2 linked regions of the Homo sapiens genome follow. The protein of the gene in region 2 purifies or fractionates together with the protein of the main gene of each other region. This does not show direct contact. Each region holds a gene or a part of one and is shown on either strand. Other genes may lie near its edges.

The links.
Region 1: the proteins of GABPB1 (region 2) and TPD52L2 purify together in Homo sapiens (affinity purification with mass spectrometry; 3 studies listed by BioGRID and IntAct, with this or other methods). This does not show direct contact.

What each region holds. Positions count from the first base shown.
Region 1 is NC_000020.11:63,879,286-63,889,751, reverse strand, and holds part of TPD52L2 (tumor protein D54), read right to left. Parts: intron 7,034-10,466; coding exon 6,932-7,033; intron 3,737-6,931; coding exon of another isoform or gene 3,710-3,736; intron 2,189-3,709; coding exon of another isoform or gene 2,147-2,188; intron 563-2,146; coding exon 514-562; intron 1-513.
Region 2 is NC_000015.10:50,351,912-50,362,980, reverse strand, and holds the start of GABPB1 (GA-binding protein subunit beta-1 isoform beta 2), read left to right. Parts: upstream 1-7,782; 5' UTR 7,783-7,996; exon of another isoform or gene 7,997-11,069.

The sequences.
Region 1 (10,466 bases), on a different chromosome or scaffold from region 2:
TAACACGAACACTGCTCAGCAGGGACAGGGAGCAAATCACGGACGGGCACCAGCCCCAACAGGTCTCCAGAGAACGATGCCAAATGAAGACAGTGAATGCCAAAAAGCTGCACACTGTATCGTTCCATTTACGTGACATTCTTGAAATGACACAATTATACAAAGGGAGAGTGGACTAGGGGTTGCCGGGGGTAGGGCGGGAGGAAGGTCAGCATGGCCAAGAAGGTACCAGGAAGGGCAGTGGGGACCAGGAAGGGCAGTGGGGACCAGGAAGGGCAGTGTGGAGGCGTTCTGTGTCCTGAGTCAGTGCCAATGTCCTGGTGGGGAGGCTGCACTACAGGATTTTCCAAGATGTCGTCACAGGAGAGAACTGTGTAAAAGGCACAAGGAACCTCTCTGCATTACTTCCCACAACTGTATGTGAGTCTACCATAACTAAATGACTAATAATAAACAAGTTGCTGTAACAGGTCACACCTTGCCAAGACCATCAAACAGTCCAGGTACAATTACCTTTATGGTCCCAACTCGGTCCTCAAACGACTTGAAGGTCGCAGAGTTCCTTTAAAGAGAGAGGGAAGAGTGTCGGTGTCAAGAGGAGAGGGTTGTGCTGCTCTCCTAACTCGGAAGGGCCTCAGGGTTAGGGCCAGCCTCCAAAGGGTCCCTAACAACATCCCAAGATCTCATGGCAAAACTGTGAGACAGCCAGGTCATTCCGGAGACTCCCCAGGTCAAAAGTGAGGTCGGCCATGCCCAACAACCACAGGGACAGGTCCAGACGTCACACAAGGCAACTGGAAACCCCTTGACTGTGCAGCTGGGGAGATGTCGGCCCCTCTCTGTCATACCCTACAGGGACATCCCGGGCTCTCGTACTGAGGTTATGAAAAGTCTGTGCAGTTGGGGGGCTGTCGGCCCCTCTCTGCTGTCCCCTACAGGGACACCCCGGGCTCTCGTACTGAGGTTATGAAAAGTCTGCGCAGTTGGGGGGCTGTCGGCCCCTCTCTGCTGTCCCCTACAGGGATACCCCGGGCTCTCGTACTGAGGTTATGAAAAGTCTGTGCAGTTGGGGGGCTGTCGGCCCCTCTCTGCTATCCCCTACAGGGACACCCTGGGCTCTCGTACTGAGGTTATGAAAAGTCTGCGCAGTTGGGGGGCTGTCGGCCCCTCTCTGCTGTCCCCTACAGGGATACCCCGGGCTCTCGTATTGAGGTTATGAAAAGTCTGTGCAGTTGGGGGGCTGTCGGCCCCTCTCTGCTATCCCCTACAGGGACACCCTGGGCTCTCGTACTGAGGTTATGAAAAGTCTGCGCAGTTGGGGGGCTGTCGGCCCCTCTCTGCTGTCCCCTACAGGGACACCCTGGGCTCTCGTACTGAAGTTATGAAAAGTCTGTGCAGTTCTTCATGCACATCTCTCAGAGAAGCAAACGGAAGACCAAGGACACTTCTGGGACAGCAGAGTGATAAGGAGACAAGAGGAGAAAGCAGGCCAGCTCCATCCCACTCAGTCCCTCCCACACAAACAGATACCCCTCCCAGGCCCGGGGACTCTAGAGGCCAGCACGTCTGCGACACCCAGCCAGAGTCCCCACAAGGAGAACAGGGCTCTCCTGAGAATCAGGGCGGTGCCTGACGGCGCAGGCACAGAATAGGGACCACAGTTCTGGGCTCTCCTGAGAATCAGGGCAGTGCCTCACGGCACAGGCACAGAATCCTGAGAATCAGGGTGGTGCCTGACAGGCACAGAATAAGGACCACAGCTCTGGGTGTTTCCGTGAAGGCTGAGACCGTGAAGTGTCCTGAGTGACAGCCCACCAGGGCAAGTGCCAGGATCTGTGTGCGAGCCCCTCGAACCCCACCCCACCCACTGCAGGCAGCCAGGGTCAGGACTTGGAAAGGACACGGCCCAGTTTGACACAAGGATCTCCTCTGGAGGCTGCAGGTGAAGAGCCTGACCCCCTACCAGCTCTTCCTCGTCAGCCTAGAGGGGGTTTTTACCGGCCCTTAGTCATCAGAGGTTGCCAAGGGAATGGAGTCCTCAATTAATCCAGGAATATGGGAAGGGCAAGGTGTAACCGGCGGGAGCTGCCCCAACCCCCACCAGAGACACCCGGCTCTGGAGCCGCAGCGAGCAGGCATACATTACCTCATGGCTGGCATACTTATTGAGTGGCGGATGGAGTAGCTGCTGCTTGGAAGCATGGCAGAAGCAGAGAAGGAAGCAAGAGTTAACACCAAGATCCACACACAACCCCAACTTGGCAGGGATGGGCAGAGCTGGGATTCCCCCACTCCCAGCAGTTGGAGCGAGCTGCCTGCCCCTCCACACAATGCCCCCGAAGGAAACTCGACCCCAGGGTCCTCCCTTGGCCTCATGGGGGGCACCCCAAGTTGCCCAGCGCATAGCACTGGGAGGGGGGAGAGCACTGCCATAGGAAGCTGTGAGGAGACCAGGCTTGGGCTTTTGAAAAGTATTTGGTACAAACAGCCTTCAGAAGTCAAGTAAGGACCTTTTGGCAAAAGAGAAACCACCAAGTCAAGTAAAAACACAAGAAATCACAGATTGTTCTGGGCCTGGCTCTAGACCTCCCGGTTCCAGCAGAAGGGCACGTGCTGGCGGCGCCCCGGCTTGGCCTAGAGGAGCTTGCTCTGGTCTGCAGGAGGGCCCTTTGGGAGGCACACCTATGGGCTCTCGGGTAGTAAACAAGACAAAACTCCATCTGAAGGAAAACAAGGAAACAGGACAGATGTTGAACAGGAAGGTGGTGAGAGTCGGCACAGCCCTCCCACGTGAAAAGGCTCCTTTGAGGGCCCGGCGCAGTGGCTCACGCCTGTAATCCCAGCACTTTGGGAGGCCAAGGCGGGTGGATCACGAGGTCAGGAGATCGAGACCATGCTGGCCAACATGGTGAAACCCCGTCTCTACTAAAAATACAAAAATTAGCCAGGCGTGGTGGCTCATGCCTGTAATCCCAGCTACTCAGGAGCCTGAGGCAGGAGAACCGCTTGAACCAGGGAGCTGGAGGTTGCAGTGAGCCGAGATCACACCACTGTGCTCCAGCCTGGTGATAGAGCGAGACTCCAACAAAAAAAAGAAAAAAAAGGCCGGGCGCGGTGGCTCACGCTTGTAATCCCAGCACTTTGGGAGGCCGAGGCGGGCGGATCACGAGGTCGGGAGATCGAGACCACGGTGAAACCCCGTCTCTACTAAAAATACAAAAAATTAGCCGGGCGTGGCGGCGGGCGCCTGTAGTCCCAGCTACTCGGAGAGGCTGAGGCAGGAGAATGGCGTGAACCCGGGAGGCGGAGCTTGCAGTGAGCCGAGATCGCGCCACGGCACTCCAACCTGGGCGACAGAGCAAGACTCCGTCTAAAAAAAAAAAAAAGCTCCTTTTCAGGAGTAAACTCAGGCCTGGACGCCAGGCCAGTTATTCACAGACCCGGCAGCAGGCGGTCTGTGAGCCTGAAGGGAAGCACGAGGAGGGGACACAGAAGGGCCGGGGGGTTCCGGGGGGCCTCTGCGTCGATCCCACGCTGCTGCTTTGTTCCCTGAGATGCAGCAACCACCTGGCTGGCACTGCTGTCCTGGAAGGGGTGATCCCACTTTCACTGCCCTCTACTAGCACAGCCGCCCAAGGGCCCTGCCGGAGTCCACCCTGCCCCAATTCAGAGAAAAGTCTTCCACAGGTGTGTCCAGGCTCAGCCTTACCTAAAGGAGTGTGAAAATGGATGAGCCCTGGAAGGTGGCAGCAGGAGAGAAGAGGAAACGAAGTGTAAGCAAGGGAGGCCAGCACCCACTCACAGCCCTCCTCGGGGAGCCCCAGGGGAGGCCCCCTGCTCGTGCTCAGTCAGGCCCAGCAGGGGAAGACCCTCCAGGACGGCTCCTCCAGTCCGCACACCACCGGGGACAGCAGCACTGTCTCCAGTCTCCTCAAGTCCTGACTCAACAGGAGGCTCTCGCAAGATCATGACTAGCAACTGCTCAGCCTCACGGCTGTGCCCAAGAGGCCCCTGGGTCCACGCCCTGTCCACGCCTTATGCCCCAAGGCACACCTGTTTGGAGAAGCCACAGCACCTGGAGCACAACCAGCCCCATCCAGCAGCGCAAAGGTGTGAAATGTGCCACAGCATGACAGCTGGGCTTGGCCAGCTCCACAGAACGAGAGCGGCCCGTGTTCCCCAAATCACGTCAGCTGAGGGAGCACACGCACCGTGGGAGGATGTGGGACACCCTTGGCGCCGAGCATTTCTGCTCTGCGCTCCATCCGTGCCCACAGACGCCAACCTGGAAACCTGTGTGTCCAAGGGCAGCTGCTGCCACTCACTGCAGCCAGGCCCACTCTGACATGGAGGGAGCCACTGAAGAACTGAGAAACACTCAACTCGCCCGAGGTCCTGAGAGGGCCGATGCCTCATCTGAGACCACGGAGTCAGACGGTGACCTGACCCTGCTGTAAACCCCCACTCTGACCTGAATCCAGTTCCCTTCCTCCCATCCCCATCACCCATGCCCCAGGGCACACCAAAGGCCTCACAGACCGGGGCTGCCCTGGGACAGGCCCATCATGGACACGGGCGTTGGGCAGCTGTCCAGAGGGGCTTCCGCCCAAGAGTTAGCAGGGGTCCGCCGGGGTTCATCCAGCCCTAAACTCATGACATAAACCTCCCAGAACCCAATTTTCACTTTCAGGAAGTAGTGAGCTCTCAACCTCAGTCTCTAACTCGAGGTGAATGGGCCCAGACCTCAGAAACCACCTGTGACTGCTTGGGGAGATGATGGGGATACACCAGGGGCTCCAGACGTCAGAGTTCCCACCACCACTACAAACATAAATGGAGGAGCAAGCAGGGCAAGACACACCAGCAAACAGGACCCTCCACGGGCACCGTGAACACGGCCAGCCAACTGGAGCGAGCTGGCTCGTCCCAGGTCAGCCTGAGGCCCCGCTCCCCCAGCTGGCCCCATGTACCAGGGCACACGTGCAAACACGTGGCACAGTGTGGCTGGGCACACTGACAGCTGTGCCAGCGTCACTGCAACAGGAACTCTGCTCACTGCCAGCCATGCCCTGAGGCTACACGACACGGGTCAGCTGCCAACCCCAGGACTGAGCAGAGAGCGAAAGCCTTTCTCCCCATCAGAGAAGGAGGAGCAGACAGAGAACCAGGACCGTGTCCCTGTGCTTCCAGAGAAAAACAGGCCATACAAACAAATGCCCAGATCAAAACCCTAGGACTGGCTTGTGCACGGCTATTCCAATCAGTGCCAAGGGCTCCACGTGCCCCTTGGATTTCCACCACAATGGTCTGAACAAACTCAAAAGGGAGTGTGGACACTAAGAGTGGGCAAACGCCTCCTGATGGCCGGCATAATTTAGGCACAACAAACACCTGTTACTTCCTGAAGATGCTCTGTGGTGAGACCAGCATTTTCGGGAAGAAAACAGCCCTGCGAGGCTGAGTTCAGCTGAAACTCAGGGGGTCCCTCCTGGGTCCAAAGCTCAGCAGTGGTAGGGAAGACCTGCATTTGTAGGGTGCCCCACAAGGACCCCCCCAAGTCACAGCTGCTGGGGAGTGTGGAGCCTTGGGCGTGTGAGGGTGCACAGAGGAAACACACACATTGCATACTGATGACTGCAGCTTCTCCAGAGGTTTAAAACTTCTCGAAATAGAAGTTGCAGGGATGGGAAGGTAGATTACCTCAAAAAAACAAAAATAAAAGTGGGCACAGCTCCTGGGCAGTGGCCATCCCCTCTGCTTGGCAGGGTGGGTCCCTGGGTGTGTGTGGCCGTCTGTGTCCTGGCCTGTGGCTTAGTGGTCAGGGGAAAGCACTGGCGCAGGACGACCCCCACCTGGCAACCACAGGCGGGGAGGCAGGACACACCTAACCTAAGGCAGGCAGGCAGGGAGGCAGGCAGGCAGGCAGGCAGGCAGCCCAGCAGGAGATGTACGTATCTCTGAATCCTGCAGGGGCCACAAGAGGGGAAGAGGGGAGGGCTGGGTGGGGTCAGCACTGTGCTCCACACACCGGTCCTTTAGGAAGCCTGCACCCATCTTTGCCAGGATTGGGTCAGAGCTACAGGGAGGCACTCCCTGAGATCCAAAAGCCAGAAGACCAGTTCTGAGAATGGGAAAGGGGTCAGGGCAGGGTGGGCAGCAGCACCCAGAAGTTGGGGCCAGGATGCTGTTGATGGTGACAACCTATATCATCCACTCCTACAACCCCTGTGAAAGAAGGCGTGCCTGAGGCCCAGCTGGGGTGCCCAGCCAGGAGGTAGCCCAGCCAAGCATCATACCCAGGCTTCTGGCTCAATCCCCTCATCACCATGCTGTAGTCAGGGAGCCTAGAACAGGGAAGGAAGAGCAAACATGCCAGCCACAAAGCGCCGGCCCCCTGCTCACTCCTTGGCCCCAGCCCTGCTTGCTGAGGGACCTCTGATGGCCAGGAGGCTTTCACCAGCCTCTGGGAGAGAAGGCTCATTCAGGGCCTCCTGGCGTCTGACTGCACTTTCTGAGACCTGGGAAACAGCCTGAGGAAGTACCACGCCGAGCCCCTGTCCTAGAGATGGTGGAGGACTGCCGTCCCACACTGACCTGACTCTGACCCCTGGGCTGGAGTCGCTGCCACTCAGTGAAGCTTCAAGGTGCAGACTCCTCCCTCACCAACCCCGAGCACCACAAGTTACCCAACAGCACTGGCAGCCAACCCTCCCTGAAGAACACAGCAACGGCAGAAAAGCAGCCAACGGGGATGGACGAACCTCCCAGGCAAGGGTCTGCACACAGACTGGTCGGGGCCATGATGGATGGCCACATCCCTGAGCCAGTGCATCTGAGCCCTGATCTCCAGGCAGGCTTCCTGTAGCACCTCCAACACCTCACCTCACTCCTGGCCAGGTCTCAGGGCAGCAGAGTCAGGGTTGCGTCTCACCTCATGTCTCCAAGCTTCCTGCTGATGGCAGAGCCCACTGTGGACAGGGCAGCTGAAGTCTTCTGTCCTGCCTGTGAAAGAGTTTCCTGAGTCTTCTTGTAGCTGGAAGACACACCAGTTAAATCAACCAGACAGCATGGGCGGGTCACCACCCACAGCCAAGCAAACAAAGCACTGGGAGCACGCCCGAGGAAAACTGAGGAAAGGAGCTGGGCCAAGGGGTGGACACTCGCCAGGTGTCTACAGAGGGGGTGCAGGCCCAGAGCCCCTCGGCCCCCAGAGGCCCCTGCGGCGAGGAGCCGCCTGTGCATTGCTCGCTCACTGAGCTCTCGGCGACCCTGCCGAGTCTCGGCCCCCCAGCCCTGCAATGACGCTGCTTTCTCATCTCACAACCCAATTTCACCCCCTTGCCTGATACCCACTAAGCTCGCTTTCCTGTCTTCTCACAGCCCCTCTGACTACAGAGAACACGCCCCATTTGCCTGCTAGAGCGGACGGGCCCCCTGAGGTGCACGCCTGGCAGGCAGTGCCAGAGCAGAAAGGCCTCTCAGTGCCCTGACCGGCCCATGCGTGCAAGTTTCCCTTTCCTCTTCCCAAATGAGACTGTGCTGAGGGGAGAAAATGCAAGCTCAACCACGTCTGTGGGGAACGAGCGTCACAGAGTGGCCATGCAGCCCGCAAGGTGCCCCTGCTCCAGACGGCGGGGCCCCGTGTGCCTTCAGAACATCGGACAGTTCCATTCCCAGGCCTCTTTTCACAGTGCAAGGGTCTGTCCTGGCCCCTAGTGAAGGCCCCGCTTCTATCCCCTCCAGCTCCCTCCAGTGTCCACCCACATGGGTACATCCCATCAAAGCAAAGCTCTAGGGCCTTGGCGTCTGCAGGACAGGCAAAGGGCAGCAGGCAGGATGCTGTGGCTGCAGGGATACTGTTGGGCCCACCATGACAGTCAACACCTGAAGTCGCTGGCCCTCATCCAGCTGCCACCATAAACACAAAACACAGCAGACTCTGACATAACAAAGTCCAAAATGCGAACCCACAGCCACCTTATCACGGCTCCTCCCTCAGTGAAGCCAGGGAACTCGAGGCTGAATGGAGATGGGCTCCCAGGACCATCTTGGCGTTACCAGTGCCAACCTGGAGAGCTGGCAAACCCAGCCAAGCCCTGAGTGGCATCTGGGATGACTGGCGCCAGAGAAGGCACAGGCTCCTCCTGCTCCCACTGGCGGCACCAGGTCCCAATGATGGGCCTTCCGGAGCCCTTACTCACAGGCCCTCCCACCACTCCCTGCAGAAGGCCCGTGTGAGCTGAGTGCTACTACTCTCCAGCCCCCAAACAGTTGACAAGAGTGTGTGACCCACCAAGTGTGCCCTGGCAGCGCATCCCAGCGCAGCTCTCTCATGCCCGCCCCCGGCCCAAGGCCTACCAGAGGATGCACTTTCTTTCTTTTTTTTTTTTTTGAGACAAAGTCTCGCTCTGTCACTCAGGCTGGGGGGCAGTGGTGCAATTTCAGCTCACTACAACCTCCGCCTCCGGGTTCAAGAGATTCTCCTGCCTCAGCGTCCCAAGTAGCTGGGATTACAGGCACCCACCACCACGCCCTGCTAAATTTGTCTTTTTAGTACAGATAGCGTTTCACCATGTTGGCCAGGCTGGTCTTGAACTCCTGACCTCAGGTGATCCACCCGCCTCGGCCTCCCGCAGTGCTGGGATGACAGGTGTGAGCCACTGCGCCCAGCCCGCTCGGATGACAGGTGTGAGCCACCGTGCTCAGCCCAGAGGATGCACTTTCCCATCCAGGCTCCGTGCAGCTGGAATCATGGCTGTTTTTAAATTTTTTCTTCTTTTATTAATAAAACACCAGTTATAAGTAACTAATGACCTGCTATATTTAGTTTCAAAAACACAAATTCTTTTTTTTTTTTTTTTGAGACAGAGTCTTGCTCTGTAGCCCAGGCTGGAGTGCAGCAGCACCATCTCGGCTCACTGCAAGCTCTGCCTCACGGGTGCACGCCATTCTCCTGCCTCAGCCTCCCGAGTAGCTGGGACTACAGGCGCCCGCCACCACATCCGGCTAATTTTTTTGTATTTTTGGTACAGACGGAGTTTCACCGTGTTAGCCAGGATGGTCTCGATCTCCTGACCTCGTGATCCGCCTGCCTCAGCCTCCAAAAGTGTTGGGATTACAGGTGTGAGCCACCGTGCCCAGCCCAAAAATACAAATTCTGAAGACATCTTTAACCTTGATTTTCCCTGAAATAACAAATGCATAAAACCATGTGAACATTCTGTGGTTCGCTGAAGCAAAGTCACCTGCAGCAGAGGATTCTAAAGCGCTCACAGCACCTGCATTTGTGCCTAAAGAGTGGGGATGGGGAAGCTGCACCTGCATTTGTGCCCTAAGAGTGGGGATGGGGAAGCTGCACCTGCATTTGTGCCTAAAGAGTGGGGATGGGGAAGCTGCACCTGCATTTGTGCCCTAAGAGTGGGGATGGGGAAGCTGCACCTGCATTTGTGCCTAAAGAGTGGGGATGGGGAAGCTGCACCTGCATTTGTGCCCTAAGAGTGGGGATGGGGAAGCTGCACCTGCATTTGTGCCCTAAGAGTGGGGATGGGGAAGCTGCACCTGCATTTGTGCCTAAAGAGTGGGGATGGGGAAGCTGCACCTGCATTTGTGCCCTAAGAGTGGGGATGGGAAAGCTGCACCTGCATTTGTGCCTAAAGAGTGGGGATGGGGAAGCTGCACCTGCATTTGTGCCTAAAGAGTGGGGATGGGGAAGCTGCACCTGCATTTGTGCCCTAAGAGTGGGGATGGGGAAGCTGCACCTGCATTTGTGCCTAAAGAGTGGGGATGGGGAAGCTGCACCTGCATTTGTGCCTAAAGAGTGGGGATGGGGAAGCTGCACCTGCATTTGTGCCCTAAGAGTGGGGATGGGGAAGCTGCACCTGCATTTGTGCCCTAAGAGTGGGGATGGGGAAGCTGCACCTGCATTTGTGCCCTAAGAGTGGGGATGGGAAAGCTGCACCTGCATTTGTGCCCTAAGAGTGGGGATGGGAAAGCTGCACCTGCATTTGTGCCTAAAGAGTGGGGATGGGGAAGCTGCACCTGCATTTGTGCCCTAAGAGTGGGGATGGGGAAGCTGCACCTGCATTTGTGCCCTAAGAGTGGGGATGGGGAAGCTACACCTGCATTTGTGCCTAAAGAGTGGGCATGGGGAAGCTACACCTGCATTTGTGCCCTAAGAGTGGGGATGGGGAAACCGAAGTTGGAGAGAAAACAACCGCCTGTGCCCGGCCTTCAGAATGAGATGTGGGGTCCTGAGCGTGACCTGTGGGTGGGTAAGTACCACCCACACAAGGAGGATCGGAATGAGATGCGGGTCCTGAGCGTGACCTGTGGGTGGGTAAATGCCACCCACACAAGGAGGAGGGTCCTGAGGGTTCCTGGCCACTGACCACTGGCCACTGACACCCGGTGCCACTGTGATCAGTCCCTGCTGTGCCATAAACCACACTCAAGCCCCTGGGGGCCCC
Region 2 (11,069 bases):
TATCAAGTGAGGCTAAAATTGGCTACCTTGGAAATGGAAAGGAATAAATGAGATAGTAAATGTAGAGCAGCTGCCATACAGTTTAACAGATGCTCAATAAATGCTGATTTGCTTTCCTCCTTCGCTTCTCCTTCTCTGTCCTTCAGTACTTTTCTCAATATTCTCTCTCACTGGTTTCCTTCACTCTCATGGCTTTATTACCCTTCTATGGATGGGTAACTTCTAATTTTCTATCACCAATTCTGACCTTTTTTCAGAGTACCAAACCTTAGCTTTTGTGTGTTTAATAATTCTACCTTGATATTCTGGCATCATCTTAAACTCAATCCATACAAAATTTCTCTTTCTACAAAAAACTTGAAGGCAGTGGGGGTAAGGTGAGAGAGTCACAGGAGTTGGAGTGAGGAGCCACAAGTTCTTTTTTTTTGTCCACATCATGGGATTTTTTTTTATAAGTTCACTGGTTTTTAGTCTATGTTCTATCTACTCTAATCACCTGAACATGTTTCCTAGCTTAATTTCATGTTTTTCGTCTGTGATGGAGTGATAAAATGAACATTTTCTGTTTATAACTTTTTGCAAGCTTAAAAAATGCCATATAAAATTGCTATTGACATCTGATTCAACATGGTGGGATGAGGGAAGGAGTTAAGGATGAGATTTTGAGCCTGAGTTCTGCAGTGTCTTTTGCACCTGTCTCGCCTTTCCTTCACCATTGTCATTCCCCAGAATTCAGGCCTACCTTATCTTTCACATTTGTGATGCATTTACAGAAAAATTGGCTCAGTCAGGGAAGTAATAGTTGGTAGTGTGTATCCAGCATTGCTCACGAGTTTTAAAAATAACCATGAAATATATAATATACATACTGAAAGTACATTTTTCTCCAAAAAACCTACTTCTCATTAAGTCATAGAGTGCTAACACTCATGTAATCCCAGTGTCTTAGAATGTTCGGCTTATTTGGCTCACGGTTTTGCAGGCTGTACAAGAAGCATGGTAGCAGTATCTGCTTCCAGTGAGGGCTTCAGGCTGCTCACGGTGGAAGGCAGACAGGAGATGACATATGCAGAGATCACATGGCGAGAGAAAGGAGAGAGGAGGTGCCAGTCTCTTAATGAACTCACTCCTTACAGAATACGAAGCCACTCATGAGAAATCCACTCCCACAACCCTTCCCACCAGGCCTCACCTCCAACACTGGGGATGAAATTTTAACATGAGACTTGGTAGGGTCAGACAAACCAAACTCAAGCCATAGCACCCTACTTAGGAACAGAACATCAACAGCACTCCAGAAGCACCTATTACCTCCCAAGCACTACTCCCTGCAAAGCTAACTATTTCTTTTCTTTATACTTTTACTACCTAAACATATATCCCTAAATCTAGATTGGTTTGCCTGTTTGTTGAACTTCCCATTTTCCAAAGTGGTTATACCAATATACATTTCCAGCAGCTGTGTAGTTTCAGTTACTCCAACTCTTGACCAACATCTGGCATTTTCTGGGTTTTCCATTTTAGCCATTCTGTTGGATGTGAGATTAAAATATCATTTAGGTTTTAATTTGCATTTCTCTAATGATTAAATTAGTTGAGTATCTTTTACATGTTTATCGGCCATCTACACGCCCCTTTTATATTTTTTAAGAAACTAATATTTAGATACCCTTTTTTGTGAGGTGACTGTTTAAGTTTCTACCTTTTTTTTTTTTTTTTTTTTTGAGATGGAGTCTTGCTTTGTCGCCCAGGCTGGAGTGCAGTGGCACGATCTTGGCTCACTGCAACTTCTGCCTCCTGGGTTCAAGCAATTCTCCTGTCTCAGCCTCCCGAGTAGTTGTGATTACAGGTACGTGCCACTACGTCTGGCTAATTTTTATATTTTTAGTAGAGACAGGGTTTTGTCATGTTGGCCAGGCTGGTCTTGAACTTCTGACCTCAAGTGATCTGCCTGCCTGGGCCTCCTAAAGTGCTTGGATTACAGGTGTTAGCCACTGCCTGGCCTCTACCCATTTTTTTATTGGATGTCTTCTTTTTTATTGATTTGTGGGAGTCTACAAATTCAAGATAGCAGCAAAGAGATGTATTTCTATTGTAGACATGAATGCATTTGGCTGGGTGTGGTGGATTACATCTGTAATCCCAGCACTTTGGGAGGCTGAGGTGGGAGGATCACTTGAGCTCAGGAGTTTGAGAATAGCCTGGGCAACGTGGCAAAACACAGTCTCTACAAAACATACAAAAATGAGCTGGGCGTGGTGGTGTGCACCTGTAGTCCCAGCTACTCAGGAGGCTGAGGTGGGAGGATCGCTTGAGCCCAGGTTGAGGCTGCAGTGAGCTGAGATCACATCACGGCCTTCCAGCCTGCATGGGCGACAAGGTGAGACCTTATTCCCTCCACCTCCCCAAAAGATGAAATGAATTCATTTGTTTGATGCTATTAGAATACCAGTAACTCCCCTTACTTTGGCCCCAAATTCACAAATGAACCCTCCAAAAGGTAATGCAGTTAACTTCATGCATTCTCTTTAAACAATGTACTGAGTCTTTATGCCAGGGAATTTGGAATTAACAGATACAGTACAGGTCTCTCATTTCAAAGTAGTATTCCTAATCATGAAGGAAATGAGAGACCTGTACTGGAATCCTGTCTTTAACACCTTTGAGGATGGTGAATTTAGGTAAGTTATTCAACCTATTTTAGCCTCGGTTTCTTCATTGGAAAAATGGGGCAAACAATACTTATTTTACAGAGTTGTGAGGATTAAATGAGACAATATATATAATATGCTTTGCACAGTGGCTGGCATACAGGAAACGTTTAATATATGGTAGCTACTATAAACTCGGTTATTTCCGTGTAGCTTTCCATGTCTACATGGAGGGAGAAAATGAGCAGATGTCCATTATAATTTAGCTATTACAGTTTTCACTCTAAAGTAAAAAAGGCATTTAGATTTATATGTCTTCTGGGAGTTTGGTTCTTCTGACTCCCTTCATCTGTGAGACCATAGGTACTTTTATGTAATATGATAAAAATTATTAGAAAAAGAAAAAAACGGCCGGGTGCAGTGGCTCACACCTGTAATCCCAGCGCTTTGGGAGGCCAAGGCAGGTAGATCACCTGAGGTTGGGAGTTCGAGACCAGCCTGACCAACATGGAGAAACCCGTCTCTACTAAAAATACAAAATTAGCAGGGTATGGTGGTGCATGCTTGTAATCCCAGCTACTTGGGAGGCTGAGGTAGGAGTATCGCTTCAACTCAGGAGGCAGAGGTTGCGGTGAGCCAAGATCGCACCATTGCACTCCAGCCTGGGCAATAAGAGCGAAACTCTGTCTCAAAAAAGAAAAAAATAAACTAAAAAGGAAAAAAGGGCCGGGCACGGTGGCTTACGCCTGTAATCCCAGCACTTTGGGAGGCTGAGGCAGGCGGATCACAAGGTCAGGCAATGAAGACCATCCTGGCCAACATGGTGAAACCCCGTCTCTACTGAAAATACAAAAATTAGCTGGATGTGGTGGTGCACACCTGTAATCCCAGCTATTTGGGAGGCTGAGGCAGGAGAATCGCTTGAACCCAGGAGGCAGAGGTTGCAGTGAGCCGAGACTGCACCACTGCACTCCAGCCTGGCGACAGAAAAAGACTCCCATCTCGAACACAAAAAACAAACAAAAAAAGGGAAATAAAGAATATGCAAAGTACAATCCCTCAAATTTTTATTAGACCCACAGAAATAAAATTAGTCTGTTAAACTGCTATAAGTTTCTAAATTCTTACTTTCTGTAAATGCCTTGACATGGATGTGTAACAAAGGGCTTACAGACTGGCACTGCCTTGTGGACCACACTTTTGGTGAGACTGCTCTAGAGCGCTGACAAAAATCAGACTTTGAATCCACAGGGCTGAAGTCAAAGCAACTGAAGGGTGTCCTGACTCACCAGCTGGCCACCTAGTGGCCTCCTTCTAGTCATAAGCACAACCTTGTGTCACTCCTTAGTTCAAAAACCATCCATTATTCTGCCTGACTCAAGGGTAAAATCTCAGTCCTTTAATCTGACATCCAAGGCCTTCCAGAGCTGGTTCTAAACAACTTTTTAAGTCTGACTTTCCACTATCCTCTACTTCACTAGACTGCATTGTCCAATATGGTAATAACTTGTCCCACTTGAAATGCAGAAGTGAAATGAGGCTAATTTAGGAACTGAATTCATAATCCTAACTTTAATTTAAAATAAAATTTAAAAATATACACGATTCGATTACCGTAAAACTTTTAAGTATGCTTGGAACGACTTGGGTACGTGAATCTATTTTTTCAGCTGGAAATTTTATGAAATCAAGTACTGAGATATGCTATAAGTATAAAATACACACCAGATTTCAAATGCTTAGTTATGAGAAAGATAATGTAAAATATTTTTAATATTTAGTAATTTTTTATGTTGATCACATGTGAAATAATATTTGGATATGCTAGGGGTTAAAAGTGTAATTAAAATTAATTCCACCTAGACAACATGCCCCAAACCTAGGCATCACTATTGATTCCTCCCTTTCCTCATTTAATTGGTAAGCAAGATAGGTCAGCTTTTTGGATCCATCCACTTCCCTCATCTCTACTGCTACTATCCTAGTCCATGATACTCCATTTCTTTTTTTTTTTTTTTTTTTTTTGAGACGGAGTCTCGCTCTGTCGCCCAGGCTGGAGTGCAGTGGCACGATCTCGGCTCACTGCAAGCCCTGCCTCCTGGGTTCACGCCATTATCCTGCCTCAGCCTCCCGAGTAGCTGGGACTACAGGCGCCCGCCACCACGCCTGGCTAATTTTTAAAAAAATTTTTTATTTTGAATAGAGACGGGGTTTCACCATGTTAGCCAGGATGGTCTCCATCTCCTGACCTCTTGATCCTCCCACCTCGGCCTCCCAAAGTGCTGGGATTACAGGCGTGAGCCACCGCGCCCGGCCAGATACTCCATTTCTTAAATCCTTCAATGGCTTCCAGTGCACTTCACCTTCTTATTGAGGCTGAAGACTTCACCTCCTATCATTCCTTCTTTTGGTCACTAGATTTCGGATACACTGACCTTGCTATTCCCTAAACACAACAAATTTTTCACCTTAGGGCCTTTGCCCAGCTATTCCCTTTGGTCTCACACTGTTCTTGTCCTTTCTAATACCTTCTCAGTGAGGCCATCTCTGATCAACCAACCACCAAAAGTTTGCTCTCTTTTCCCCAGAGTAACACTTTATCCAATCAGCTTTTAATTTTCCTCACAAACTCTTTTTTTTTGAGGCGGAGTCTCGTTCAGTCGCCCAGGCTGGAGTGCAGTGGCGCAATCTCGGCTCACTGCAGCCTCCGTGTCCTGGGTTCAAGCTACTCTCCTGCCTCAGCCTCCGGAGTAGCTGGAATTACAGGAGCGTGCCACCATGCCCAGCTAATTTTTTTCAGTAGAGACGGGGTTTTGCCATGTTGGCCAGGCTGCTCTTTAACTCCTGAACTCAGGAGATCCACCCACCTCGGCCTCCCAAACTGCTGGGATTACTGGCATGAGCCACTGCACCCAGCCTTCTTCACGAATTTATGGGATATTCTCTCTCCTCTTATTTTTAAAACTTGTTTATATGCTGTTTCCCTCTAAAAAACAGGAGTAGGAACCATTTGTTTTGCTGCTGCTTTACCTATTTCAGTGTGTAGAACAGTACCAGGCACAGAGTAGGTGCTCTTCCAACAGTGTTGAATGAATATCTAATTGCACACTACACATATATGACTGGTTGGCTCACATGCACTTCAAATTTTACATGGTCAAAACAAAGACTTCTTCCTTCCCTAACATATATTCTCTTATTTTGTTTCTAATCTCAGTGAAGACATTACTATCCTCCTAGCTGCTCCACCAACTCACTTGGGAGTCACCTGACATCTATCTCCCTCAGTCATTTTCAGTTAACCAAATCTCCCAATAACCACTTTATTTTCTTCACACCTACCTGCTACCAACTCAGTCCAAGTCATTACTGGCTCACAGCCTACTGTTTACTCCAAACTCTTCTGTTTGCCTCAAATTTTTGTGTAACAGTGATCTGTCTAAAATGAATTCAATCCTATGATTCTTCTACTTAAAATCTTTCAATATCTTCTTCCTGGTTCTCAGAAGCTGACTTCTGCACATAGCATTCAAGGCCTTCACAAGTAGACCTCCAGCATTGTCTTCTTTACCCAACAATCTCTCTAGTGTTTGCCTCCAAACATCTGTACTTACTGCTTCTCATCTAGAAAGTCTTCCATAATACCCTTATTAAAGCTAATTGCTTCTCTAGTCCCATTCCATTTTATTCCTCCCTCTTGGTTTAGTAAGGGGTTCCTCCTTTATTTGATTCCACAGTATTAAGTAGCTTCACTCTCATCATACTGATGATGCCTATTTACTTGTCTACATTCTACAGCCTAAGATTAATGGGGGCAACGATTCTGTAACAATTAGCTGAATGTTCACTCAAATAAACAATGCTCATTCAAATAATGCTACAGAAAAACATCAGAATTTGGCAAATTTCTATTAACTGAAGAAATGAAAATATTAAATCAAAAGAAAACACAGCCTATGGTTCCTATGCTTTTTTTCTATTTTAGGCACAATGCTTTAATAAATTACACAAAGACTACAAACCTTTATTACATCAATTGTTACAAAAGGCTAAGTGGAGAAAGATTACTTATCTGAAGCTGCACAAAATCAGTGGGCAATATGGATTTCATTTAAGCTTGTCAATTCTCCTGGATTAAATTCTTGGCGCTGTCTCACATATTCCCAAGTCCTACATGTAGGATGCTAAAAGTTGCAGTTACTAGGTTGGGAAAGCCATGCCCAGACGCCCCTGTGAAAAACATATCAATATATTAAGTTCCTTAGCAAATCACATCTAGATTAAGTTCATAATGCTTTTTTTTTTTTTAACTTTGCAAATCTCCAAACTTTTGCTACTTTCTTAATAAAATACAACAAAATTTTTGGCATTCCAGCCACGGAAAAACAGATCTCTACCTCTGAGGTGGCAGTAATCCAAGCAGTTACTAGGATCTACGAAACATGAGGCATAATTAGAATGTTGGGGAAAAAATCTACAGAAATATCTATATCTTCGTCATGAACCTGACTGTTGAGTTTATGAAAAAGTGGAAAAGGAACCTCACTCGTTCCTTCCCTGGTACCTTCACAGCGTCTCCCGTCCCAGTCTGCCTAGTTGAATCTAGGGACACTTAAAGGTAAATCCTAGCCTCTTGGCTGTCCTTCCGTCTCCCAGGATTCTGCTAGGCCGCACAGTTGGCAAGCTTAAAACTCCAAAGATTCCGCACTCTCCGTCTTTCAACAGTCATGTCACAGAGACACGAAGGTTAGCACAGGAACATTAGTTTCCAAACTCCTACCCACCGCAGAACAGGCGGGAAGGTTCGGTGGCCACCCGGCCTCTCCGCCGCGCACATGGCCGTCCGCAGCTCCCACCCCCGCTGCCGCGCAGGCGCCGGGCGAGCCGGGACTTGCGGTCGCCGAGAGCGGATCATTCCGCCGCTTTCTTTGTGTGGCTGAAGCGCTAGAAATGGCATATTTTCTTTCCCTTCGTTAAAAAATCAGACCCTCTTTCCCCTCTCTCCCCGCGGGAACACAGCTAGGGAGTGGGTAGGAGCAGGATCTGCCGACGAGGGCAGAGGCGGAAAATCCTCGGGCGATGAGCTGAAGAGGGCCGGGTCCGGGAGGGATGCTGGGAGCTTGACTCACTCGCACACCATGTGTCCCTCCGCGCGCAGCACGGGGGACTTTTCGGTGGGGATTTTGGGCGCCGACCAGACGCGGCATTTTCGGAAAATAGCGCCCTGTGCAGCTGAAGCGCTTTGTGTGTAGCGGGGCCGCGTCAGCCCGGCCGGGTACGAGGCGCCTCGGGTCCCCGCACCACCTCCTGCTGCCTTCCCGTCGCCGCTCCCGAAGCTTTTCCAGGTCAGTGCGGGTCTGTGTAGGGCCCTGTTACCACCGGATGTGGAAGTTGATCTCTTCGCTGGTAAAAAATAATTCCACTTCCCCCGGAACCCAGATCATCCCCGCGATTTCCTGTTTATTGCATTAAGGCGCCGGGTTTCCGGGGCTCCTGGCCCCGCTTATTCCGCGGGGGTCGGCGGGGTCGGCCTGGGCGCCCGCGCCGCCGCTGCGCTTTGTCCGCTGGGCACACTGCTTCTGGGAGGGGCGGGCAGACATGGTGGCGGCCGCCGCCCCCTCCTCGGCCCTAGCATGCCGCGGCCGCCTCGCGGCTACCCGGCTTGCCGGTCCCGAGCGGCAGCCCCGGGGTGGCGATGGGGTCGCGCCGAGGCAGCGGAGGTTCTGCGGGCGACTGGAGGTTGGCAGTGGGCGGGAGAAAGAGGAAGGCAGGCGCGGCTGGGCCTCGGCCTCTGGCGCCGCGGTACCCTTTGTCTCGGCAGCCTGACGGCCCCGCCGGGCTCTCCGGAGAGGGGAACGGGCGGCGAGGGTGGCGGGTCCTGGGCGCCCTGTGCTGCGGGGCCGAGAGGCGCTCGGGTCGCGGCGGGATCGGCCGGACCAGACAGGGTTAATGGAAGAGCCTGGCCAGTCCCGCGCGGGGCCCCCGCAGCGACAGCCTTGGCCGCGGGGACTGGAGTCCTGAGGGGGAGAAGCCTGCCGTTCTGAAGGCTCGGGACTTCTGCCCCAAAGACTTCGCCGCCGAGAACTGCGGGTGCACTGCCTCAGGGAAGAAGTTGAGAATTTTGCCAGGTCATCTCTGCCAGGGCACAGTTCATCACTGTGTGTTTAGTGTGTTTCGGTGAAGCTCTCCAAGTGTGTTGAATCAGCGTGCCTAGCCTCAAGGGTGCATCGTGAAAACTGAAACCAAAGGAATGATACAGGCCTGCTTTGTGTGTGTCTTCCCACTTTAAGCTTGTTTTCAGTACAAATACTCTTGCTTTAAACCTGATTGGACTGTGGCGAGCGGACATCTGTTCAAAGGAGGGGCCGAGACCACAGTACTTCTGAAGGGGGCTTGATAATGTGGAAACATTTTAAGTTTTCTCTCCGGACTGTTTTGCTCTCTCAATTCAGGCAAGTTACTGAAGTACGTTTTTTATCTAGAAAAAGGTTTGATGTAGTCTGTAAATGGTCCTTGTAAAGTACATTGCCATCTCAGAATTAAAAGATCCACTCTCATTTATTATGCAGAAGTTAGTGGTCATTCTTTCCTGTAGATAGTTTATCTCATGTAAAGACCCACCCAGCTTGGTTTAAATTTTTTTCTCACTGACGTATAACCATCAGCTTTGATACTTCCATTTTCAGGCTCAGACTTTGAATTTAAGGAAACTAAAGATGACTTTATTTTCTTTTCTCTTGGTTTTTTTTTTCCAAAAACAAAAAATAAATCCATTACATGTTAACATAGATGATAAGAGTGACATCTTGCATTTTTGCAAATCTTTTTAATGCCTGGTTTAATAGAAGATTCTCAGATCTACGTCAGACTGTTGTGGTTAGCACACCATGTAACCTCTGGAACACTCCACTGTACACTCATACTTTTTTAAAAAAAAAACCAAAAAACAGAAATGTGTCATTCTTACCGTGCTTTCACCATACAAGTCAAATCAAGCTGTTATGCAAGACACATTTTAACAAGACTGAATAAGATTGATTCCCATACTTTTTTTACTGGGCTCTAACTTTTTTAAAAGTTGGAATTTAGGTGACTAAACAAAATCACAGATGAAGACTGCATAATCTGCCTATGATCTCGGAGACTCAGGAACATTCGAAGATATTCTTAAGTGATTAAAACATTTAATTCTATTACATATTTATAATGATTTACACAAGTAACACGTGAATTCCACATATGCTATCAACACTTGTGTAAATGTTATCTTTAAAGATAGAACATGTTGAAAATTATAGGAGGTACAGATTTTACAGAAAATTAATTCTGCAGTGAATCCTTTGGTGAAACGAACAGTTTGCAGAGACATATCCTTAGAGTTCTTTGTCTCTCTGAATCATTCTGGGTTTTCTAGGTTGGGAGACAATTATACTTATTGGGAGACAATTATACTTAATTGATTAATGCATAAAAATTTAAGGCCGTATTTTAATGGCTTTGAAAGGAAGCTAAGTTTGTTTCCAGTTGTTTCTGTGAACTGTAGTCTGAATCTGTCAGTCTATAGTTCTCTACTGTTCCATCAACAGGAAGCATCTGGTCATTCTTCGTGTAATTGTTAGAAAATACCAGGTGTACTTTTAATGTTTGCTGTTCAAACGAAAATAGATTGGATCTTGGTTAAGTTCACTTGGTTTGGCCAGGCACAGTGGCTCACGCCTGCAGTCCCAGCACTTGGGGAGGTGGAGGCGGGCCGATCACCTGAGGTCAAGAGTTTGAGACCAGCCTGGCTAACGCGGTGAAACCCCATTTCTACTAAAAATACAAAAAATTAGCTGGGCGTGGTGGTGCGCGCTTGTAATCCCAGCTACTCGGGAGGCTGAGGCAGGAGAATCGCTTGAGCCAGAGAGGCAAAGGTTGCAATAAGCCAAGATAGCGCCATTGCATTCCAGCTTGGGCAACAGGAGCGAAACTCTGTCTCAAAAAAAAAAAAAAAAGTATGCTTGGTTTTAGTGTGTTTTTTCCCATAACATTGTGTCATTGTAATGGACCACATCTCCTGTACCATGAATTTTTTTTTACTTTTTTCTTTTGCCCCTCAGTACCAGAAATATTAACAGGTAACAGGTAAAGTGCACGTCATGAGGAATTCAGAAATTCAGAAATTACATGAAGTTTTGCATCATGAATTTATTTTTGAGGGTGCACGAGGCAGTTACCCAGTCTCTGTTTGCAAGTAGCCTGAGTTCAGATGAACTCACTGATGGCCTCCATCTCTTCTGACTTTGCAAACGTTGAAAAACAAACCCACACAAAATCTTGAAGTTGAGAGCAACTTAGTTTCCTTAGTGTCATCCCTCTGCTCCCCTCTCCTCCCCAACAACTAGTATGGTTTCCAGCTAGTAATCACAATGTTTCTAT